Linked DNA regions of Homo sapiens. The protein of the gene in region 4 purifies or fractionates together with the protein of the main gene of each other region. This does not show direct contact. Each region holds a gene or a part of one and is shown on either strand. Other genes may lie near its edges.

The links.
Region 1: the proteins of SLAMF7 (region 4) and INPP5D purify together in Homo sapiens (affinity purification with western blotting; one study listed by BioGRID). This does not show direct contact.
Region 2: the proteins of SLAMF7 (region 4) and TBC1D23 purify together in Homo sapiens (affinity purification with mass spectrometry; 3 studies listed by BioGRID and IntAct, with this or other methods). This does not show direct contact.
Region 3: the proteins of SLAMF7 (region 4) and DHCR7 purify together in Homo sapiens (affinity purification with mass spectrometry, with the first as the bait; one large-scale study listed by BioGRID). This does not show direct contact.
Region 5: the proteins of SLAMF7 (region 4) and MARCHF6 purify together in Homo sapiens (affinity purification with western blotting, with the first as the bait; one study listed by BioGRID). This does not show direct contact.
Region 6: the proteins of SLAMF7 (region 4) and DAGLB purify together in Homo sapiens (affinity purification with mass spectrometry, with the first as the bait; one large-scale study listed by BioGRID). This does not show direct contact.
Region 7: the proteins of SLAMF7 (region 4) and NAGPA purify together in Homo sapiens (affinity purification with mass spectrometry; 3 studies listed by BioGRID and IntAct, with this or other methods). This does not show direct contact.

The regions. Positions count from the first base shown.
Region 1 is NC_000002.12:233,203,342-233,205,872, reverse strand, and holds part of INPP5D (phosphatidylinositol 3,4,5-trisphosphate 5-phosphatase 1), read right to left. Parts: intron 1,748-2,531; coding exon 1,156-1,747; intron 1-1,155. UniProt on the Homo sapiens protein: Phosphatidylinositol (PtdIns) phosphatase that specifically hydrolyzes the 5-phosphate of phosphatidylinositol-3,4,5-trisphosphate (PtdIns(3,4,5)P3) to produce PtdIns(3,4)P2, thereby negatively regulating the PI3K (phosphoinositide 3-kinase) pathways.
Region 2 is NC_000003.12:100,263,992-100,267,491, reverse strand, and holds part of TBC1D23 (TBC1 domain family member 23), read right to left. Parts: intron 1-3,500. UniProt on the Homo sapiens protein: Putative Rab GTPase-activating protein which plays a role in vesicular trafficking. Involved in endosome-to-Golgi trafficking.
Region 3 is NC_000011.10:71,441,894-71,445,393, reverse strand, and holds part of DHCR7 (7-dehydrocholesterol reductase), read left to right. Parts: intron 1-435; 5' UTR 436-441; coding exon 442-539; intron 540-1,107; exon of another isoform or gene 1,108-1,178; coding exon 1,179-1,401; coding exon of another isoform or gene 1,402-1,437; intron 1,438-3,040; coding exon 3,041-3,131; intron 3,132-3,500. UniProt on the Homo sapiens protein: Oxidoreductase that catalyzes the last step of the cholesterol synthesis pathway, which transforms cholesta-5,7-dien-3beta-ol (7-dehydrocholesterol,7-DHC) into cholesterol by reducing the C7-C8 double bond of its sterol core.
Region 4 is NC_000001.11:160,737,990-160,742,046, reverse strand, and holds the start of SLAMF7 (SLAM family member 7 isoform a precursor), read right to left. Parts: upstream 2,801-4,057; 5' UTR 2,746-2,800; coding exon 2,691-2,745; intron 1-2,690. UniProt on the Homo sapiens protein: Self-ligand receptor of the signaling lymphocytic activation molecule (SLAM) family.
Region 5 is NC_000005.10:10,433,695-10,437,194, reverse strand, and holds part of MARCHF6 (E3 ubiquitin-protein ligase MARCHF6), read right to left. Parts: 3' UTR 1-3,500. UniProt on the Homo sapiens protein: Endoplasmic reticulum membrane-associated E3 ubiquitin ligase that plays a critical role in mitigating endoplasmic reticulum stress, the regulation of cholesterol and lipid homeostasis, and ferroptosis.
Region 6 is NC_000007.14:6,437,955-6,441,454, reverse strand, and holds part of DAGLB (diacylglycerol lipase-beta), read left to right. Parts: intron 1-3,500.
Region 7 is NC_000016.10:5,027,640-5,030,935, forward strand, and holds part of NAGPA (N-acetylglucosamine-1-phosphodiester alpha-N-acetylglucosaminidase precursor), read right to left. Parts: intron 2,855-3,296; coding exon 2,746-2,854; intron 1,370-2,745; coding exon 1,241-1,369; intron 547-1,240; coding exon 341-546; intron 255-340; coding exon 207-254; intron 1-206. UniProt on the Homo sapiens protein: Catalyzes the second step in the formation of the mannose 6-phosphate targeting signal on lysosomal enzyme oligosaccharides by removing GlcNAc residues from GlcNAc-alpha-P-mannose moieties, which are formed in the first step.

The DNA.
Region 1 (2,531 bases), on a different chromosome or scaffold from region 4:
TCCTGACCTCAGGTGATCCATCCACCTCGGCCTCCCAAAATGCTGGGATTACAGTCATGAGCCACCACGCCCGGCCTGGAGTCTGTTCTTAATCACTGTTAGTTTTGCTCAAAAAATTTTTTATTTTACATGAAGGAGAGGGAAAGTGTGCTGAATTCTCCAAAATATTGGGAAATTTTCAAGTATGAATGCGACTTAATAATAACAATGAGGCTGGGTGCAGTGGCTCATGCCTGTAATCCCAGAACTTTGGGAGGCCCAGGCAGGCAGATCACCTGAGGTCAGGAGTTCGAGACCAGCCTGGCCAACATGGTGAAATCCCATCTCTACTAAAAATACAAAAATTAGCCAGGCATGGTGGCAGGTGCCTGTAATCCCAGCCACTCGGGAGGCTGAGACAGGAGAATCGCTTGAACCCAGGAGGCGCAGGTTGCAGTGAGCCGAGATCACACCACTGGACTCTAGCCTGGGCAACAAAGAGTGAAACTCCGTTGTTGTTGTTTTTTAATTTTTTTTTTTTTTTTTTTTTGAGACGGAGTCTTGCTTTGTCACCAGGCTGGAGTGCAGTGGCGCAATCTCGGCTCACCACAACCTCTGCCTCCCAGGTTCAAGCGATTCCCCTGCCTCAGCCTCCCAAGCAGCTGGGACTACAGGCGTGCGCCACCATGCCCGGGTAATTTTTTGTATTTTAGTAGAGACGGGGTTTCACCATGTTGGCCAGGATGGTCTCGATCTCCTGACCTCGTGATCCACTGTGCCTGGCGAAACTCAGTTGCAAAACAAATTTATAATAACAATGAGATATAAATGATTTAGGCTCCTTTTCTTTATGGAATCTTCTTCCTCTGGGACTGACACTAGACTAAGTTTATCCACAGCCCCGCCTTTCTTCCTTTTAACAACTGCTGCAGAGGCAATGCAGGGTCAGGGATGTGTGGGACAGGCAGACCTGGGTTCAAATCCTGACTCTCCCTTCTCATGGAGCAGTTCCCAGGACCATCACTCGCATGTGTGCACATGCATGCGTTCACACATGCACGCACATATGCATGCGTGCACACACACATGCACACACATATGCATAGGTACACACATACGCACTCACGCATGCACACACACACAAATGCACACGAACCCACGTGTGGCGCAGCGCACCTGCATGGCAGTCCTGCCTAGAGGCCCTGGTGGCCCCTCCTCCGGCCGGTGCTTGCCGTGATGCGGGAGCTCGGTGTTGTCGCGGTAGTCGCGGCCCTTGGAGTGCTGGAGGTGCAGCACCGCCGGGCTCTTGACTGGCAGCGGCGGCCGCGGCGTCGGGGTGGGCGGGGTCTGCTGGTTGATTTCCGATCTGGAAGGCTTGATGGGCCTCTTGGCCGGCACCGGGGCCTGGGAGCTGACCGGGGTCTTGGGCTTCCCTTGGCTCTTGTCCCCGCCGGCCGCCCTGCCCTCGGCAGAGGATGAGCACGTGAAGGAGCGCAGCCGGGGCGCGGGCACCTGCTTGCCGGGCCCCTCGCCGCGATCAGCCTCCTGGGCTTTGGTGAGCACGATGCTGGGCGACAAGATGCCGGGTTCCGGGCAGGGCGGGGGTTCCTTCCGCGGCATTTTGGGGGATTCCTGGTCCTTCCTGGGAGCAGGCTTAGGGAAGGAACTCAGGGACCCATACAGGGGGTTCTCAAACATCTCGGGCTTCGTCAGCGGCAGGTCCTCCTGAGGCAGCGTGTCCCCTGCGTTCTTCCCCAGGTCACTGGGCCTAGAGCCAGGGACAGAGCAGGGAAGACACATGTCCAGGGGAGAAGACATGGGAGCATGGCTGCTTAATGGCTCTGGGTCTTTCTTTGGGGTGATACAAATGTTTCTGAACTAGATAGAGACATGTAACATTGCAAATTTACTGAATGGCACCAAATTGTTTTGTCTTGTTTTGTTTTAGAGACAGAGTCTCGCTCTGTCACCCAGGCTGGAGTGCAGTGGTGCGGTCATGGCTCACTGCTGCCTCAACCTCTTGGGCTCAAGCAGTCCTTCCCCTCAGCCTCCCAAGTAGCTGAGACTACTTGGGAGTAGCTGGGAGTAGCTAGGAGTAGCTGGACATTGCTGGGAGTAGCAATGCCTCCAGGCCTGGCTAATTTTTTAGTTTTGTTTTATTCTGTAGAGATGGGGAGTCTCACTATATTGCCCAGGCTGGTCTTGAACTCTTCGCTTCAAGCAGTCCTCTCACTTTGGCCTCCCAAAGTGCTGGGATTATGGGCATAAGCCACTGTGCCCAGCCTAGCAAACTGTTCATTTTGAAATGGTTAATTTTATGTTAAGTGAATTTCACCTCAAGTGAAAAAAAGGAAGAGGAAACAGTACTGTGTTCATCATACGTTGTCCTCAAAGACAGCCTCAGTTCTGGCCTGGGACCTTTTCCACTATAAAACCTGTTCACATCAGAGCATCTGTGAGCAAGGGGCATGGCACTGGAGGATTTGTGGGAGAAATGAAGTGAGAACTTACATGGCACCTCAGTATCAACCCCTCATCCTCATCAGATGAGC
Region 2 (3,500 bases), on a different chromosome or scaffold from region 4:
CAACTATCAAATGCTATGTCAGCTAAAGGATAAGAAAAAACTCCTTTAAGCATCAAGAAAAAAGATGAAGACTTGCAACAAATGACTTTATTAGTCATCATTTTCTTAACTCAGGTTAAAAAGTTACGCAGACCCTTGAAACAAACAGACATTAAATTTCAGAAAATAGGTTTAAGTGGCTCTTAAATTCTTTATTTCTACAAGAAAGAATTTGATTTTATGAGCTTAATGGAAGGTACTTACCTGCTTTCCATCTGTAATTCTCAATATTTAACTCATTTCAAGCCCTGCCCCTTTTCAAACTGTTTAATCCTATTATTTTCTGTTAGAGCCTGTAATTTCCAAAACACCAGCATTTAGATATCTTCAGAAGCTATTTTCACACAGTATTCCTAGAGATAAAATGATGAAAAAAATCAAAGTATCCCAGGAAGGCACCACAATGCACATTCCTGATTGTAAAACTGTTTCAAATTTTTTTCTAAAACCTTACACAGCAGCTTGAATATAACCACTATTCAGTGAATGTTTGCTGAACTGAGAATGTTTTTGCTAAACTCTATTTTGCTTTTTGACACATGAGAGAAGGCACTGTCTTTATACCAAAAAGAATCCACATTTCAGCACTGTGCATCAGAAATGCTTTGTCAAGCATATTTTCTCAATTCTCTCCAGAAGACTCCTACTTAAAAGTTGGCTGCATATTACAGTATATTTAACTGGGTGCTCTGAATTGCTCACTATACTTACAGAGGGAATGCACTTGTCGCCTCTCTGCAGTGATTACACAGAGATAAAAATGAATTAATTGAAATACATTTATTTAGCATGCAAAAACCAATTACTAACTCAAATTATGGATATTAAAACATCCACAGGAAACAAAATCCTAGAAGTGAATTATTACCTAAGAATTACCTTTAGGCTGGGTGCAGTGGCTCATGCCTGTAGTCCCAACACTGTGGTAGGGTGAGGAGGGTGGATCACCTGAGGTCAGGGGTTTGAGACCGGCCTGGCCAACATGGTGAAACCCCATCTCTACTAAAAATACAAAAATTAGCCGGGCATGGTGGCACATGCCTGTAATCTTAGCTCCTTGAGAGACTGAGGCAGGAGAATCCCTTGGACCCAGGAGGCGGAGGATGCAGTGAACCAAGATCGCACACTGCACTCCAGCCTGGGTGACAGAATGAGACTCCGTCTCAAAAAAAAAAAAATTACCTTTAAAAACTCTAAAATCTAAATTATAATTAAAGACTTTAATGTAAACAGTATAAAATAAGTCTTTTTCATTTCTTATCTTTGCCTGCCCTCTAATTATAGTTTACAAAATCAAATAACTGTCACATCATAACCCCAATTCAAAAAATGAAGTTCATTTTCTCATTTCTTCTAAAAGTAGTATCCAGCCTTCCCAGTTCCACAAGTAGACAATGTCCTTCTTAGACAAACAGTTCCTTTTTCTTTTACATTTAATATATTTCTTTATTGATTATATCATATCTGAAATTTCAATCACTTAGTTCTTAAAAGACATTTTAAGTTTTTTCTCATATTTCAATGCTTATTAAATGGGGAACACTGATAGTACTATTTACAGAGTGCAGAAAACTTTGAAAAATATTATTCTCAAACAATTCCTACTCACATCTCAGATTAACAACAATAGAAGATTCTTTGTGGAATTAATATTTTTACAATTTTAAGAAAAGTTTAGCAATAACTTAAGAAAGGTTTAGCAATAAAAAACCCTAATTAAAAGTTGAATATTAAGTAACATTTTTTAATTAAACAAACTCCCAATTTCAACAGTTATATAATTGAAGTCAATACCAAAATAATTTTTTAATTATGACTATAGATCTTTAGACATTATTTTGGGAAGAAAGTATCGGAAAATGAGAACATATGTTCAAATCCAGTGCTAGTTTCTTCAATACCAAGGAGGGTAATTACCAATCTTTTCACTGTAACAATTTAACATGTTTAATTTTACAAATCCAGATTCTCATAACTTATATTAATTTTTTAAAATTAAATTCAAATCACTTAAAACTAACTATAAGCATTTTTACAAGAATTTCACCACACCCTTTGAGCTTACATGGCTGAATCCCAGGGAGCTTGAAAGCTGAGGCATTTTCTGATTACTTTGGCTTTCCATAAAGAATAAGCATTATACCAACAGACAATTCCACAGCTCACAAAAACACTGGAGTCAGGAAATTTATATGAAATGACAGCTTAGTATGCTATTGCACATAATTACAGGAAAGTTTTCATTCATGCGTACATTCATTCAATAAACATTTACTGAGACACCTGCCTTTTATCAGCCACTGCCCTTGAGAAGTTCATTATCTAAAGAACAATGATAAGTCATGTAATTACACATATTTTAGTATAACATGTAAGGTGATACAATGTGACATATACAAATTCCTCTGACCTACTCATTCTGATATATATATAACCTAGAACCCTGCTAACTTAAGTGTGGTCCATAAACCACCAGAATTGGCAACCCCCAGCAGCTAGTCAGAAACAGAGACTCTCAAGTTCCACCTCAAAATATATTGAATCACAATCACAGTTACCTGGAGAGCATTTTAACAAGCTCCCCAGATAATTCCAATGTACGTTTAAATTTTGAGAAGCAGTGAACTAGAACATAACTGAAAATCAGCAAAAACAATGTCATAGAGTCCACATACTTTTAAGATCTTCAAGGTCCATCCTGAGCCTTTTTAAGAATGTATATACAATTTCAACAAGTTCAATGGCTTAGTTTCACAGACTAGGAACAAATTGAGATACCACTGACAACAAAAAAAGAAAATAGGAAAAACTTATAAAAAGCAATCTCAAAAAGGGATAGCTGTGTCACTTAACATAGCAACAATTTGTCTAGATAGGCCCTAAAAGTCTCACCACATTACAATAACACAAAAGTAATCGATGTTCTCAAACATGCCTCCTGTATCTAGAACATAAATTCCCTGAGGACAGAGACCTAGTTCTATCCTTAAATTACACTTACATTTGTAAACTGAATGACTCAAGTCATTAAGATGAGTTTGAGCTAGGCAGTAAGATATATGATACATTTTAGAAAAAATTCCATCTGACAGAGTTAAAATAAAAACATTTACTCCAAAAAGAAAGAGAGATAAAGAAAGAGAGGGAGGGAGGGGGAGGGGAGAGAAAGACAGAGTAGAACACCCGGATGGATGGGGCACACCTGTAGTCCCCAGCTACTCAGGAGTATGAGGCCAGCCTGGGCAACATGGCGAGACCTCGTTTCTTCAACAAAACAAAACAAAACAAGAGTAAAGCATCCCCATTCTATAACCCATTCACCAAGCACTCTAAGAACAGAGCCTTTACTGAACCTCTGGCTCCCAATCCCAAAGTCTTCCTATTCAAATCCTCTTCTGGGGGGCTGATGAGAGTGCCAGGATAAAAAGGAGAAAGATTAGAAGAGGATGGAGGGAAAACAG
Region 3 (3,500 bases), on a different chromosome or scaffold from region 4:
AACAAGGACACCTGCAAACGTGCTCTAAGCAGAGGAAGTCAGTGCCACAGACAATTTAAACTGTGTTCAAGGATGAGTGAAGACCCCTGTGTTCCTGGAGCCAAAGGAGAATAGGGGAGAGTGGTGTGTAGGAGGGAGGCAGGAGCCAGCTTGTGCTGTAAGAGGGGGGGCATTCTGCCATGTTTGGAGAATGAACTGAGACTAGCAAGAGCAGCCATAGCAAGGTCACGTGGGAGGTGATTGCAGGGTCCAAGGAAGAGAGTCTAAGACAAGATGATCTCTTCCCTGCCTGGAATCTGCTGTCAGGAACAAGGTACCGGGAAGATGTGCACAGGAGGCCAGCCCTGCCAGGCCCAGGAGCAGTGGTGGATGCAACAGGGAAAGGTGGTGTCTGTTATTTGAGGGATAATGTAAGCAAGGTTCTCTTTCTTGCAGGGCCCAATGGCTGCAAAATCGCAACCCAACATTCCCAAAGCCAAGAGTCTAGATGGCGTCACCAATGACAGAACCGCATCTCAAGGGCAGTGGGGCCGTGCCTGGTAAGGATCTTGCCTGTTCTCCCAGCTAGAAAGTAAAGTGTGGTCTCAGAGCTTTCCAGCCTTTGGAATTGTATGGACCCAAAGGAATGAAGGACCTTTTTAAAAAAGATTTTTTTTTTTTTGTCAAGACTAATGAAAGGTAAACAGTTTTCCACTTTATAAAGTAAGGAATTATAAAAAGAAACTAGAAATCATGGTCAGTCAACAACTTAGAAAAAAAGATAAAGGCTTAAAGGGCAGCTGGGGCCTTCCCACCATCTGGGGGTATGACCTATTGTCACAGCTCCCATTTCGCCATAGAACCATGGGGACTTCGTGCAGGGTGAGTATCCTCTCCGACCTGGAACTGGGGAAACCACTGGCCTTGGTGGTTGTGAAAGACCTACCTCCGCTCATATTCTGAGCTCTGGGCCTTCCATGGGGGCCACAGATAGTGCCACCAGTTAATCAACTACAGTAGAGCAGGCATGTTGAGTGGCTTCCCTGGCCGCAAGGAGGGCCCGTGCTAGGAGCTAATGCCTTCTGTCATGGGGTACTGGTGGGTTTGAGCAACAGTTCTCCCACACAGAGCCTCTTAGGGTCCTGGTGGGGCCCAGGGCAGATGGGCCCCAGTGTGACTGCCTGCATCCGTCCTCGCAGGGAGGTGGACTGGTTTTCACTGGCGAGCGTCATCTTCCTACTGCTGTTCGCCCCCTTCATCGTCTACTACTTCATCATGGCTTGTGACCAGTACAGCTGCGCCCTGACTGGCCCTGTGGTGGACATCGTCACCGGACATGCTCGGCTCTCGGACATCTGGGCCAAGACTCCACCTATAACGAGGAAAGCCGCCCAGCTCTATACCTTGTGGGTCACCTTCCAGGTCAGCAGCCCCTGCCCTGGGGTTGGGACACAGCAGGTGGGGAGCGTGCCCTCCTGCTGGGGTAGTCCTTCCATTTGTCTGGGACATGGATCCTGGCTCAGGTTGACATCTGGGTTCCCGGGACCCAGCAGGGCATTCCCTGGACTCTGACATGTTCAGATTCATCCTCAGCTGTAAGGCAGGAGGCACCTGTCACATCAGCGTTTGATACACCTTCACGGCATGCCTGCATGCAGTTGCTGGGCACGCCCAGCTCTGCAGGGACAAGCTGAGGATAGGAGCAAAACCCCGTGGGAGGGCAGTGCTGTCCTGAGGAAGCCCCATTGTCAGCAGGAGTCACGCCTTGCACCAGGTCTGGAAAGGAGCATCTCAGTCCCCAAAGGGACTCTCTCAGTCATGAGATGCCACTCAGAGAAGCGAGGGCCATGTTTCCCCACAGGCAGTCGAGGCAGGTCCAGGACGTCCTCAGCTCCATGGTGTCCCCACTGGCCTCCCAGTCCAGAGGGAGTTCCAGGAAGGGGTTGTTGTAAACCTGGTGCACACATGGGTGGTGCTGATTGCCTGAACCCAGGAAAAGGTTTCCAGGGAAACGGTGCTAGAAAGAGACAGGCCTGGGTTTTCCTTCCTGGGCGGGAGGAAGGCTCAGATCATGATTAGCTGTTTCTCCCCAGGGTCCAAGCTTCTGGGCTCCAGAATACTTCTCAGTTCAGATCTCTTGGTCCCTTTGAGTGAAAAATGACAGGGGCAGTGTGAATCACAAATAGCCACAAAGCAGGAACCCCCACCTGTCCATCAGTAGATGAATGGACCCACAGAACAGAACACTGTGCCCACTGTGGGACACTATTTGGCAGCGGAAGGGAATGAAGCTCTGATGCCAGTAGGCGGATGACCCTTGAAGACACTGCTGAGCGAGAGAAGCCAGTCACAGAGGCTGCATACTGTGTGGTTCCCTTTATATGCAATACCCAGTACAGGCAAATCCACAGAGGCAGAAAGCTCAGTGGCAGCCAGGGGCGGCAGGGACAGGGAATTCAGAGTGACCGGAGATTGGAACAACATTTTCTTCTGTGGTGATGAAAAGTTCTGGAATTAGCAGTGATAGGTGTACAACCAACCATGTAAATGCGCTAAATGCCGCTGAATTGTGCACTTTAAAAGGGTGAATTTTAGCCGGGTGTGGTGGTGCACACCTGTAATCCCAGCTACTTGGGAGGCTGAGGTGGAAGGATCACTTGAGCTCAGGAGGACAACGCTGCGGTGAGCTATGATTGCACCACTACACTCCAGCCTGGGTGGTAGAACAAGACCTCATCTCAAAGATAGATTTATATATATATATAAAAAGTTGAATTTTATGGGATTCTCCATTTTAAAAAGGTGACTGGGAGGGACCTGTGCGCTCTCCTGAGGGGCGAATGGAGCCCTGGGGGAGAACGCCTTGGCACCTTCCCTGGTTGATGAGTTTATTGTCTCAGAACCCCCTTCAAAACCCACAGCCCAGCAGTTTGAGCTTCCAGGAGCCATAAGTGCTTCAGGAAGAAAAAGACTATGATTGTGATTCTCATGTTCCTGCTATGCGTCCCCCTTTGCAGGTGCCCTCCAGGCGGGGGGTGATCAGGCTGCTTGTGTGTTTCAGGTGCTTCTGTACACGTCTCTCCCTGACTTCTGCCATAAGTTTCTACCCGGCTACGTAGGAGGCATCCAGGAGGGGGCCGTGACTCCTGCAGGTAGCCTCCTCCCTTCCACCCTCCCCAGGCTCCCGTTCTCATCCCTTTCTCTCAGGGGCCAGTCCTCCCCAGCGCTGCTTTGTCCCTAAGACTTGTCACAGGATAGAAATCCATTTTGCTTGGATTTTTCACAGCACCAGGCCTCAAAACCATTGAGGGCAGCTGGGGCCATCCCACACCCAGGTTAGAAATCACTTTCCTGGGTAAGGAGGGAATGGATGGCCCAGCTCCTTCCCAGCCCCATAGCAGGGGATGCACTCGGCCCATGAAGCTTCCTGCAGAGACCACCATGCAGAGACCACCATTCCTCGGGGCTGTCCGTGGGAGACCTTGTCTGTTCATTCCTTGCCATCATTGAGAACCCACGAG
Region 4 (4,057 bases):
TGGAAAAGCCTGCCTCCTGCTTGCCAACCCCGTCCCCAAGCACTTCTCTGAACACTTGGTGCCTCTGTCCAAATGTAGCAGTGTGTTGTGGCACTCTCCTCATGAAAACCATGAACCAGAGCATCTCAGAGCTTGGAGGAGTCTTAGGGATTACTTAGTCCAATCCCATTTCACAGATAAGAAGGCTGATATTCAGAAGGTTATGGTGATGTTTCCCAAACCAGTGGAAGGCCAGGATTAGGAGCCAAGGCTCCTAAGGCAGGATTTCACAGACTGTGCCCCATGGCGCCACCTTTGGAGGCTGTGGCAGTGCCTCAGTGTATTTCTTGGGAGCTCAGGAGGAGGTTTAAGGGGTGAGCGTAGGATAGGAGGCTATGGGACTTGCTTCCGTTAGGCTTCAACTCTATACATTGGAGTCATTTATTTGTTTTTTTCTGTGTAAAATTTCATTCCATAAAAGGAAACCATGGATTTAAAAAAAAAGGCAAAAAAAACCCAAAGTGGTTTGAAATCTATTGCACTTTACTCAAGTCCCCCTTAACGAATGTACTCACGAAAGAGCAGTGTAATTCAATGCCACACAAGGCAGCCACAGACAGAGGCTTGAAAGTTTCCCGCTTCACCACACACCTTTCCCATCACTCTAGCCCTAACCGACCACATTCACATTTAGGTTGCTCACCACTCTGCTCCTCACTCATCTCCTGCCCCCTCTTCCTTGTTTCTTCTGGTTCTTTTCAACACTCTCCCAATTCCCCTCACCCACTTTTTTGTTTTCTTTTTATTGATTGTCTCCTTGACACTACTGTATCATCAAATCATTGGCAGATTACTGTGCCCATTTTTCAGATGAGAATACTGAGGCCATGAGAACTGCTTCATGGACCCTCTGAGTTTAGCCAGGGTGGCCCCCTGTTGGTACACCCATATCCCAGAAACAGAGCTACCCGTTCTTCTCGGGCCTTTCCAGTTTCTACCTCAGATTTATGTACCTGGAGAGGGAAGAAACCCCAACTGGTACTCCCTGAGGAAGATTCAGCTCAAATGCACATGTAGTGAGCATCTCTTTGGTGCCAGGTCCAGTGATAGACGGCTTGTTATGATTAAAAGAGCACTAGCTTTCTAGCTTTCTAAACTCAATCTCTGGCTACCTTATAAATGCTGTGTTATCTTGCCCAAGAAGCGTGATCTCTCTGCTGAGCCTAAGTTTCCTCAACTGTAAAACAGGGATAATGATATCTGTCTTACAGACTCATGAGGAGGTGGTATGAAAAACACCTGCGATGTAGTAACTTAATAAATGGTGATTATTTTAATAATTATTTTGCATTTGATATGTCATTTAAAATGTCACAATAATTCTGCAACTTAGATTTCATTCTCTGTTACACACCTGAGAAGAGCAAGGCTCAGAAGGGAAGAGTAATTTGCCTACAATAATACAGCTACTAAGTCAAACCAAGGATGCGCTTGTCCAGTGCCAGGATTTGTTCCACTGCCCTGCCCACTGGAAGTTCCAGGACAATCTCTGTCTCCTTTCAGCCTCAGGAGGTACACTACACAGGCTGCCTCTGGAGGAGGGCAGAGGGGGACCTGCATGGCAGTTTTTCATACTTGTGCTCTTTCGCTGACTGATTTCAGATGGACACCTGTAGCTTTCAAAGTCTCTATAATTTTCCCCAACCCCTCCACCTTATCTCCCTCAAGTTCTATTTCTGCTCATCATTTCCGTTCAGGGAGTTTTTTTTTTGTTTTTTTTTTTTAAAGTGAGGGCCTATTCCAGAACCACCTGGTTAGACCCAGGTACCTCTCAAAAATACAAACTTCTGATGAATTCAAAGTGGGTAAGAGTCTGCTGATGCTGACCACTTAGCGATGCAGGGGAAAATATTGGGGGCACCAGCTGCCTGCGTGGTCTTGGGCAGATCACTCCAGGCAGGCTCAGATACACATAATGAAGCAGTTATGTGAAGTCCTTATAGGGGGACCTCATGGTAGTACTCCATGAGATTGATGACAGAAGAGATATTTCTCACTTATAGGGCTCCTGATCCTTTCTGAGAGCCCTTAGGATAGAAAAATCTTCAAAGACTAGAATACCAGTGACAGGTGGAGAACTGTCCTCTGTCCTCCATGGGATTAAACATAAAGTGCCTATGGTATGAGTTGGTTCTCTAAGTAGAGACTGATTACATTGCTTGAGTAAGGAAAGAAAATTCAAGTGATTCTTTCCATTTATATTACTGTTATGCATAACCAATTTTATAAATACATTTATAAGTAAATAAATACATACCTGTATAGTATCATCTTGTTCTTAAAGTTGCCCTCAAAAGGAGAGAAGGCTAGAAGATAAAGTTTCTGAGGCCCAGGAAAACTTTAACATTCCTTATCTAACTCATGGCAGAACCTGGATTAGAAAAATGGTCTCTGATACCCAGCACCACTTCTTTCAGCTCCTTCATCCCTGGGACAGTCAACAGGGGAGTCAGTTCCCAGAGCCATTTTTCCCCCTCTCTCTAGTCTCTTCCTGACCTGAGAATCAGAGATCAGAGATTGATAAAAAGCAAATGTTAGATGAGAACACAGAGCCTCCCGAGTTGAGCCAGAGGCCCAGAGTGGAACAAGAAACCTGGAACTATTCAGGATGGGGTAGACAGGAGAGTGGAAGAGAATCCGGCCGGACTCACCTGTGAGCTGCCAAAGGATATAGATGAGGGTGAGGCATGTTGGGGAACCAGCCATATTGCTCTCTGGAAGTCAGCCACTGAAATGAAGCCACTTCCCTCTTAGGTATTACTCAGACCTCTTCCCCAGCTGATATTTAAAGAAGCAGGAGGGGTCACGCCGCAGACATGTGAGATTGAGTAATTGCTAAATTATTTTCAGAGTGAATAGAGCATTTTACCTTGCCACCAGCAATCTATGAGAGATCTATTTGCTCCCCATCTTCATCAGCATTTGGTATATTCCCATTTTATATTTTAGCTGTTTTAATAGGTGCTGTAGTGATACCTCATTGTGGCTTTAATTTGCATTTCCCTAAAGCCTAATAATGTTGAACATCTTTTCATGTGCTTATTTGCCATCTATATATCCATATCCTCCTTGGTGAAATGTCTATTTATGTCTTTTGTCCATTTTATAATCAGATTCTTTATTTTTTTTACTGTTGAGCTTTGACAATTCCTTATATGTTCCAAGTATAAGAGTCATTTGTCAGATATGTGGTTTACAAATATTTTCTCTTGGTCTGTAGCCTGTCTTTTCATCTTCTTAACGGGGTCTTTGGCAGAGCAAAAATTTTAATTTTGATGAAATTCAACTTATCAGTTTTTTTTCTACCCACACTAGGGTCCAAAGGTTTTCTCCTGAAAGTTTTATAGTTTTATGTTTTACATTTAAATGTATGATCCTGTTTTAATGTAAGGTGTGAAGTTTAGGTTGAGATTCACCTAAATATATTGTCTATATTCATTGAGAACCATATCAGGTAATATGGTTGACAGTTTTTTTTTGCTTTCGACACTTGAAAAGTGTCATGACACTCCTCCCCTCCATGGTTTCCAGTGAGAAATCAGCCATCATTTAAATTGTTTTCCCTATAGGTAATGTGTCATTTTTCTCTAGCTGTTTTAAAAGTTTTTTGTTTGCCTTTGGTTTTCAGAAGTATGATTACAATGTGCGTGTTTTTTTTTCTTCTGCCTGTGGGTGTTCAATTGTTCTACTACCATGTGATGGAAAAGATGATCTTTCCTACATTGAATTACTTTTGTATCTTTATCAAAAATCAGCACTTATACTTGTGTGGGTATATTCTGGAGCTATCTATTCTATTTAACTGACTTACATAATGTAATTATTTATATATCAGAGCTTAAGTTTGCCATGTTATTATTTTCTCTTTGTTCTTCTGGGCTTTTGTTTGTTTATTTTGTTCCTCTGTTTCACTTTCCTGGCCATCCTGTGTGTTACTGGAATATTTTTTATAATTCCATTTTGATTTATCTATAATGTATCTTTTTGAAGAGTTTTTTTACTGGTTGCTGTACATATT
Region 5 (3,500 bases), on a different chromosome or scaffold from region 4:
TAGCTAGCTTGGAAAGTTTTAAAAAGCGCCAGTGTTCTTATGGCACTACATTCTCCTGCACGTGTGCGTGTGTTCACGCACATTCGCAAACGCAATACAATGTAGAACTGTCCAGTGTTTGTTTTGTTTTAAAAAGTCATCAATTCAACCTAAATTCAAGAATTACACTTTAATAGTGGCATTTTGCCAATACAGAAATGACGTATCTTGGATCAAATCATTTTAAGGAAAGTTATTCTATATTACTTGAATAAGGGAAAGAAAATACACAAGACAAGAATCCACAATAATAGCAGTTACATTAAATGTTGAAATAAAAATTACTTTTTGTTTACATCTGGAATTGAGATGGCCCATCTTCATTGTTTCTCCAGAGTACTAAGAGGGGGAAAAAAGTCACCTAAAAACATGGGAAGTTTTTTAAGGCTAGCTATACACAAACGTCACATTGGCATTTTTCTTCAGTTTTCATCTCAACTATTAGTACTAAATAGTTTAAAAATCAAACATAATTTACTAATAATGAACAACTGCACACTTCATACTATGACCGTTTGATAACTGGTCATGTAAAACTATCACCAAATGCTGATTTGTCTTCTATATATAAATAGTAAAAATAAAACAAAAAGGTCTTCTTTCCTAGTTAACCTTCTTGAAGGTTGTTTTAACCCAATATAAAATTAAGCAAAATAATAGTATAATTTAAAAAAAAATTTATGTGAAGAAGGGCAGCAATACTAACATTTTCTGAACTATGGGTTTTCAATATTTAAAAGGCTCTTGGTTAAATACTAAAACCCGGATGCTACCCAAGCAAATATTATGCTGGAAAATGCTTTCCCTATGAAAATACTTATCTCATTGAAAACAACACGATAAAGTACAATTGAAAAACTAGGGGAGAATTCTTAAGTAAGACAATATAAATTACCTGCCAGTAAAATGGAGGGCAATTTTTTGGCCATTCATATTGTTTGTTTACAAAACATTGATAAGATTCATTTAAAATTCTGTAGGATTAAGAATTTTTAACCTTTTGAAGTATCTGCCTAGGATCTCTTGCTGTTAAAACAGATATGTTCCAATGACTTTATACCAAGATCCACAAATTCTTTGAAAAATTAAAAAACAAAACAAAACAAAACAAAAAACCCAAAATTAATATAATCAAGTTGGCCAGGCGTGGGGGCTCACACCTATAATCCCAGCACTTTGGGAGCCCAAGGAGGACGGATCACCTGCAGTCAGGAGTTCCGAGACCAGCCTGGCCAACATGGTGAAACCCTATCTCTACTAAAATAACTAAAATAAGCCAGGTGTGGTGGCACGCACCTGTAGTACCAGCTACTTGGGAGGCTGAGGCAGGAGAATCGCTTGAACCTGGGAGGCAGAGGGTGCAGTGAACCAGGATCGTGCCACTGCACTCCAGCCTGGGCAACAGAGTAAGACTCTGTCTCGGGGGCAAAAAAAAAAAAAAAAAAAAAAAAAAAAAAATATATATATATATATATATATATATATATATATATATATATATATATATATATATATAGTTATATAGTTATATAGTTATATGCTCAATTCAATAATAATGTTTTTCTCCCAAAGAGAGCAATTTAGAAATACACTATGACAGGCAGCATTATATTTTAAAATCCTAATTTTTTATAGTAGGACTAAATTTCTGAGTAAAGGTAGGGCTAACAAAGACCTTATTTCAAATGAGAGAAAAGGCTGCTCTAAAGTGCCAAAGAGTATAACACTGAATCCTATGTCAAGCATTATTTCTGATACTGATTTTTTTTTTTTTTTCCAATTTTGCCTAGGTTGGCCTCGAACGCATAGCCTCGCCTCCTTGTGTGCCAGGACAACCGGCCGGAGCCACCGCAGCTCCCGATACCGATGTTTTTAAAAATATGTTTTAAAGTAATTGCTTACCACTTAGGGAAAAAATTGTTGAAGTATAAAACAGCCAGAACACATTGCTCTTTATTTTGGTAGCTTATGTTTGGCTGACTTGCATATGTTAAAAAATTCTCAGATTTTAGTCTATGGATTTTAATACTATATGAAAATTCTTTTATAGTTTCTGAAGACCTATGTTATACGCTTTCTATGAGAACTTCTAAATTATCGTTCAAAAACAAACACTACCCTTACGATATACCTTTAGCATTAAACATTTAGATCATGTACCCAACCATTCTATTTTTCTAAACTTCTAACCTGAAGCTTTGGTTATGAGGGAAAACAAAGTTTGTAAGGGTTCAGTTCTCTGAGATTTTTCAGAATGTTTCCAACGAAATACATTCCTATGTTAAAAGGCCAGCTCAGCCAAGCTTCCTTCTGGACAAATAATGAATTGGTTTTATTTGAAGTTTTATTCTGTAAACAAAAAGCTTTGGAAACTTTGGGATTTCCTGATGAAAAGCTAGGAGAAATGCACACCTAGTCCTCAGCCAACGAGGCACTAACCAGCGAGACCAGATGTTCTAACCAGTCTTCTCTAATGCTGTCAATCTAAGACCACAACCACATCTATACTTCACAAGCATCTCAGAAGTCCTAAATCCAGTAAGATGCAGTACAGTTGGTGATGTCACTCTGAAAGATTTATGACCTTGCAGGACTTTCGGCCACTGCTACAAAAAATAAACAGATAGTTGTGTGTGGAAAAGAGAGGATGTGGGTGTGGGGTGGGGGCGGGCGGGGGGGCTGACTCATGAAAATCTTCATTTGGACTTTTTTTCTCTAAGTATAGACATGCCCCACTGAAACCCAACTCCCAATGCTGATCACACTAGGAATATTAAATTATCAAAATTAAAAATAATTTCCTCACCTAGCACAAGATACTATACAATATTACAAACACAGACACATGAAAAAAATCAGGCAGTAGGAAATGTACAACAGCTTTGGTGTTATACAAAATAACTTCCACAAACAACTAACAGTGAAGCATAAAGTTCATGTTTTCTTACCACAGACACTCCACTGCTGATTTCTACTTGTTTCCTTTAACGTTCTTGGTAAGGTCTGAATAGCCAAGAAAGAAAGAATGTACAGTTCCCTTAGTGAGAGCTGCTAGGACATCATGAACTGCGTTCCACAAGGCGTCACTGAAAAGTCTTGCCTGCGCACTACTGCTCTGTGGCACGTTTCCTGTCGAGATCACAGCAGGTCCAAAATAAAGTGACAACTAGATTTAATAAATTAATATACATTTTGTTTAAAGATGTACAATGCACATTCTGTTTAATCCAAGGTTTTAGGGTATCAAGGAACTTGTATTTACACATATACAAATCTCAGACAGCAGTAATGTCAGAAGATCCAGGGAGAACAGCAGAATCTTACACCGCTGCTCTCTGAATGCTGAGAACACAAGTCAAATACATTTAACTTAAAAACAACGCTGAGAGATCACTGGGAAAAATCTCCAAAGAGAGAAGTCCACAAAAAAGGACATGTAAAGGGGAAGGTCAAGTTGTTGA
Region 6 (3,500 bases), on a different chromosome or scaffold from region 4:
CAGAGTGAGACTCTGTCTCAAAAAAAAAAAAAAGAAAAAAATGTTTGTTTAATTGTCAGTTTGTGGCCGGGCGCGGTGGCTCACGCCTGTAATCCCAGCACTTTGGGAGGCCGAGGCGGGCGAATCATGAGGTGAGGAGATTGAGACCATCCTGGCTAACATGGTGAAACCCCGTCTCTACTAAAAAGTACAAAAAATTAGCCAGGCGTGGTGGCAGCTGCCTGTAGTCCCAGCTACTTGGGAGGCTGAGCCAGGAGAATGGCATGAACCTGGGAGGCGGAGCTTGCAGTGAGCCGAGATCGCGCCACTGCACTCCAGCTTGGGCGACAGAGCGAGACTCCATCTCAAAAAAAAAAAAAAAATTGTCAGTTTGTTACACATAACGTCATATGCCTTATTAAAAATATGTATCGAAAGCTGGGAGCGGTGGCTCATGCCTGTAACCCCAGCACTTTCACAAGAGGGAAACTCCGTCCCCCCCTCAAAAAAAAAACAAAGAAAAAACCAATGGTCAGTAGGAAAATGGGCAAAGAACATGAACATGTAAAGGAAATATAAATGATTGATTGACTGATGGATTGATTTTGAGATGGAATTTTGCTCTGTTGCCCAGGCTGGAGTGCAGTGGTGGGATCTCAGCTCACTGCAACCTCCGCCTCCCAGGTTCAAGCAGTTCTCCTGGCTCAGCCTCCCAATTAACTGGGATTACAGGCACACACTACTATGCCTGTCTAATTTTGTGTTTTTTTGTAGAAACCATGTTGGCCAGGCTGGTCTCGAACTTCCCGCCATGGCCTCCCAAAGTGTTGGGATTACAGGCATGAGCTACTGCACCCGGCCGACATAGCTAACTTCTGTTGTCCCTTTTGTTTCGTAAATCAAGTCCCAGTAGCCTGTCATCTGAGCTGAAAGAATGCTTCTTTAGCTTTTGGCTGATACTCCTCTCTGAAAGGAACATCACAAGATGTGGAGGGAACATTTGGAGCAGGTGGAATTCAGTCCTCTCCATCCAGAAGACTGATCCTCTTCTTCTGTAGCTCAATTGAGGAAAACTTTTTTTTTTTTTTTGGAGACGGAGTTTCGCTTTTGAGTCCCCAGGATGGAGTGCAATGGCATGATCTCGGCTCACCGCAACCTCCGCCTTCTGGGTTCAAGTGATTCTCCTGCCTCAGCCTCCCAAGTAGCTGGGATTACAGGCATGCACCACCACACCTGGCTAATTTTATATTTTTAGTAGAGATGGGGTTTCTCCATGTTGGTCAGGCTGGTCTTGAACTCCAGGTGATCTGCCGCCTCAGCCTCCCAAAGTGCTGGGGATTACAAGCCTGAGCCACTGCACCCGGCATTTGAGGAAAACTTTGATACTGTGGTAGTTTCTTTTTCTTTCTTTTTTTTTTTTTTTTGAGACAGAGTCTTTCTCCATCACCCAGGCTGGAGTGCAGTGGCGTGATCTTAGCTCACTGCATCCTCTACCTCTTGGGTTCGACCGATTCTCCTGCCTCAGCCTCCCGAGTAGCTGGGATTACAGGCGCCCACCACCATGCCTGGCTAATTTTTGTATTTTTAGTAGAGATGGGTTTTTGCCATGTTGGCCAGGCTGGTCTCGAACTCCTGACCTCAGGTGATCCACCCGCCTTGCCCTCCCAAATTGCTCGGATTATAGGTATGAGCCACCGCACCCGGCCTAGTTTCTATTTTTAATTTGAAAACCTCCCAAATGAAATCCCACTGTTGCACCTTGTGGGAGGTTTGATTGGAGATGGTCCACCCTTATGACTACCATGTTTTGACAGAAGAACCCTTTTGACATACAAAGTCTGCCTTGTGCCATGTGTGGCTTTGATTGTGGGATGCCTCCTTGTATCTCCTCTGTGTTTGTATCCCAAGAGCTCATTGCTAAGCTGGGTCAGAGAAGATTGCAGCATTGGCTATAGGAGTTGAGTGTACTGATTCTGGGACCTAGGCCTTCCTTTCATTGCTCTTCCATAAGTGGCTGTGTCTGATGATGGATGATAGGGTTACTTAACCAAGACAGTGGTGAGGACATTACATTTAGGAATGCAGCTGTGCTTGTCGGTTATGGGGCCAGCGACCTTAGGAAGCCTGCTGCGGCAGCCAGGTCCATACTAGCATCTGTTTTTCTTAAGGAAAAATAAAAGGGAAAGTTTTTCTTTTTTTTTTTTTCTTTTTTTTTCTTTTTGAGATAGAGTCTCACTCTGTCGCCCAGGCTGGAGTGCAGTGTCACAGTCTTGGCTTACTGCAACCTCCGCATCCTGGGTTCAAGCAATTCTCTTGCCTCAGCTTCCTGAGTAGCTGGGACTACATGAGCACACCACCATGCCTGGCTAATTTTTTATATTTTAGTAGAGATGAGGTTTCACCATGTCAGCCAGGCTGGTCTCAAACTCCTGAGCTCAGACAGTCCATCCACCTTGGCCTCCCCTGAGCTCAGACAGTCCATCCACCTCGGCCTCCCAAAGTGTTAGGATTACAGGCGTGAGCCACCGCACCCGGCCAGAAATTTTTTCTAGGCAGGCAAAACCGTGTAAAGGAGATTTTCTCAGTACCATCATCATCATCATCATCATCATTATCTTTTTTAAAAAATAATCAGAGATGAGGTCTCTCTGTGTTCCCCAGCGTGGTCTCGAACTCCTGGGCTCAAGCAATCCTCCTGCCTTGGCCACCCAATGTGCTGGGATCAATATCTTATTTTCTGGAACCTTAATCAGAGCAACTCCATCTCTTGATTCCTTGTCTGTGTATTTCATTAATGCAGTATCAGCAGTTGTCATCACAGTTGGAGTTTCAAGTCCAGGTGCTGCTGACATTAGGATGTGTCTGTTTTTAGAATCCCAGCCCTCCAGGAAGCAGTGTGTATGCAGATACTGTTTCCTGTTTCTCTGGGGTGTTTGGCTATTGTTATAACAAGCTCCAAATATAGGACTGTGTTTTTTTTTTTCCACATACCTGCACCCTTTCCCCCTCAGAGAGGTTAGTGTTACAATTATTTAGCTTATAAAATTTTGTCTTTGTGCCAAAAATGAGGCTGTTAGTGCCTAATATTTTATTTATTTATTTATTTTTGCATTTTAAAAATTATTTTTATACTTTAAGTTCTATGGTACATGTGCACAACATGCAGGTTTGTTACATATGTGTACATGTGCCATGTTGGTGTGCTGCACCCGTTACTCGTCATTTACATTAGGTATATCTCCTAATGCTATCCCTCCCTCCTCCCCCACCCAACTACAGGCCCCGGTGTGTGATGTTCCCCACCCTGTGTCCAAGTGTTCTCATTGTTCAGTTCCCACCTATGAGTGAAAACATGCGGTGTTTGGTTTTCTGTCCTTGCGATAGTTTGCTCAGAATGATGGTTTCCAGCTTCATCCATGTCCCTACAAAGGACATGAACTCATCCTTCTTTATGTTAGTGCCTAATATTTTAAAATGTAACTATTTCAGTCATTCTAACAGAAGATAATTTTTTGAATTTA
Region 7 (3,296 bases), on a different chromosome or scaffold from region 4:
GGGACCCTTGTTTTAGCCGAGCCCTTTGTGGAACGGGCCGCAGCAGCCACAGGGGAGTCACACAGTGATGTGCAGGTGAGGCCGGGGCAGAAGACAAGAGGCAAGCATTTCCCAGACCAGAAGGTGGAGACAGAAGCAGCAGAGGAGCAGTGGGGGCTGCCGGGGGCCACCGTCTCCCCATCCGCTAGTGGCGTGGCAGCTCCTACCTTCACTGCAGTTGGACCCGGTCCATCCGGCATCACAGCGGCAGCCGGCTGCCGAGACAAGACCGGGGAGGCCAGGTGAGGGCCTAGGGCAAGGCAGGGCTGGGCAGAGCCCCCTCCCCAGAACCCCCACTCACTCTCCGTGCACAGTCCGTGCTGGCTGCAGTTAGAGGGGCCACAGTCCAGCTCATCACAGCCGGGACCCCGCCAGAAGTGCCCGGTGCATTGGCAGTGCCCGTCCACGCAGGTCCCGTGGCCGTGGCAGTCAGGCGGCTGGCAGCGGGGTTCGTGCACACACACCACGGTGGACACTTGGCGGGGACAGCGCCACATGTTGTCCTGGCTGTAGAGGGATGTGATGTGTGAGGAGAGGACACCCCCAGACGGCCCCTCAACTCCCTCCAGGCTGCCCCCAACCACCCCTCTCTCCATTCTCACCTGTCTACCTACCTACCTACAAGATGGCGTCTATCTATTTTTGAGATGAGGTATTGCGATCCTTCCACCCGAGCCTCCTGAGCAGCTGTAACCGTAAGGTGTGCACCATCACGCCTGCCTAATTTTTTTTTATTTTTTCATAAAGACAGGGTCTATGTTGCCCACACTGGTCTTAAACTCCTGGGCCCAAGCGAACCTCCCACCTCGGCCTCCCAAAGCACTGGGATTCCAGGCGTGAGCCCCTGTGCCCAGCCCTCTCCAGTCTTTTATAGGTTCCTCCGCTCCCTACAATCCCTCCCAGCCCTGGGCCTTTCACATGTGGTGCCCTCTGCCCGGAAGGCTCTCCCACCCCCACCCAGCTACCACCTCCTTCAGATCTCAGTTCTTATTCTGTCATCCTCAGGGAGGTCTTTGCTGACCAACTGACCCTGCTCCTAGGCCTGGGTAGTACTGGCATCCTGGGGGAGGGACTGCAGCAATTTCTGCTCTCTTGAACCCCCGGGGCCTGGCACATAGCAGGCACTCAATATTGGCTGAATGAGACAGGCTGGGGCAGACCTGGACTTCAGCCCTCACGAAGGCGGCTCTCACGTGCTTACCAGTGATCTGACGGGTAACTGGCCAAGGTCCCGTTGAGCACAAAGGTGGCAGAGCCACCCCCATCCAGGTTGATGGCGTTGACCACGTCCTGTTTCAGCAGGAACTCCGCCATTTCCCACAGGTTGATGCTGCGGCACAAAGCGGCGCTGCTCAGGCTCAGCGCCCACCATCATTTCTCATTTAACTCCTTTTCCTTCCACAGTGCAGAGCATCACGCCCACAGTGCAGGCACATTTCTAAGTGGCCCCCGCCCCCAAGCATGTCTCATCCTAGCCCCCGGAAGCTGTGAACACGTGAGATCACACCCATGCCTGTGCTGTTACATGGCATAGGAATCCTTAAGGGAGGGGAAACGGCCCGGAGGATCTGGGTGCAGCCACTGGAATCACAGGAGTGTTCAACACAGAGAGCCTTCTCTGGCTGGTGACAGAATAGGAAGTGAGATTTGAAATACGAGGGGGATGAGAGGGTGGCCGGACAACTGGGGGAGAGGACACACATGGGAAGGAACCTGGGCAGCTTGAAGGAGCTGAGGCCCCAGATGGCGGCCAGCAGGGAAACCAAGACCTCAGTCACAACTGAGGAGGCGACGGGGATTCTTCCAACAACCTAAACAAGAGGATTCTTTCCAGATAAGAGAAGAGCCCTGCCTAACCAGCATCTTGGTTTTGTCCATGGGACACCCTGAACATAGAACATTCCAAGTTGACCAGCCTGGCCAACATGATGAAACCCTGTGTCTACTAAAAATACAAAAATTAGCCAGGTGCGGTGACTCACGCCTGTTAATTCCAGCACTTTGGAAGGCCGAGGTAGATGGATCACCTGAGGTCAGGAGTTCGAGACCAGCCTGGCCAACATGATGAAACCCCATCTCTACTAAAAATACAAAAATTAGCTGGGTGTGGTGGCGGGTGCCCGTAATCCCAGTTACCTGGGAGGCTAAGGTGGGAGGATCACCTGAACCTGAGAGGTAGAGGTTGCAGTGAGCTGAGATTGCACCACTGCACTCTGGCCTGGGCGACGGAGTAAGACCCTGTCTCAAAGAAACAAACAAACAAAAGAACATTCCCTGCTGAGTGTTGCTAAATTTGTGCTGGTTATGCAACCAGAGCAAACCAAAACACTCTCTTTACAGGGGCTAGAAATGAGGCTCAGGGAGGCCGAGGGACTTGTCTACGGCATAGGTGGGTAGACAAGTCATCGATGGCTAAGCTGGGATTGGAACCAAGATCTTCTCCCTGCTCACTTTGTGACCATTTCCTTGTATCCTATCTAGGGTTCAGGAAAGGTGAGGCCTAAAGCTGAAGATGATGAGTTCTTGGAATCGGCAAAGATCTCAGAACCCTCATCCTGTGGGAAGGTGAGGGGGCCCTGGGAGGGGGGACAGATAGGTGTCAACATCCCAGAAAGCAGGTAGAGTCAGAGGGTGGCTGTCATTGGGTCAACGTTCCTCCTAGCAGGACTGAGCCCCGGCCGGGGGGCCTCAGCTCCCAGGACTCACCCACGCTGCTCCGTTTGGCCGTCTGCATGAAAGAGCACCAGCTGCCCTTTCCGGTCGTGGCCAATGGCCGTCCTGGCTGATATCACATTCACAAATTTGCTAAAGGAACCTGAAGGAAAAGCAGCCTGGCTGATCACCGCCCCTTGGGAGGCCTCCTGCTTCTTGCCTAACTCCACTTCCCACTGGTCTGAGCTACCTGGTACCTCCCTGGGAAGCACAGCAGCCTCCTTGCTCGTCTCCCTGCCTCCCCTCTGCACATCCCAGTCTCCCCAGGGCAGCCGGGGGGTCTCTTCTTACAGGTAAACCAAGCTATGCCAGCCTCCAGGTGAAGACCCTCTAATGGTTTCCCCTGTTCTTAGAACAAAATCCAAAGAGCCAGCATGCCCTCCCCAGCCTCTTCCTCCTCCTGCCTCAGCTCCTGGGTGTCCCCTCACCACCCTGCAGCCACTTTGCACTTCCTGTTCCCTCTGGCTGGGAACTGTGCTTTTCTCTAGCTTGCTCCTTTGTCAGATCACCTCCTTAGTGAGGCCTTCCTTGACCGCCCACTCTTT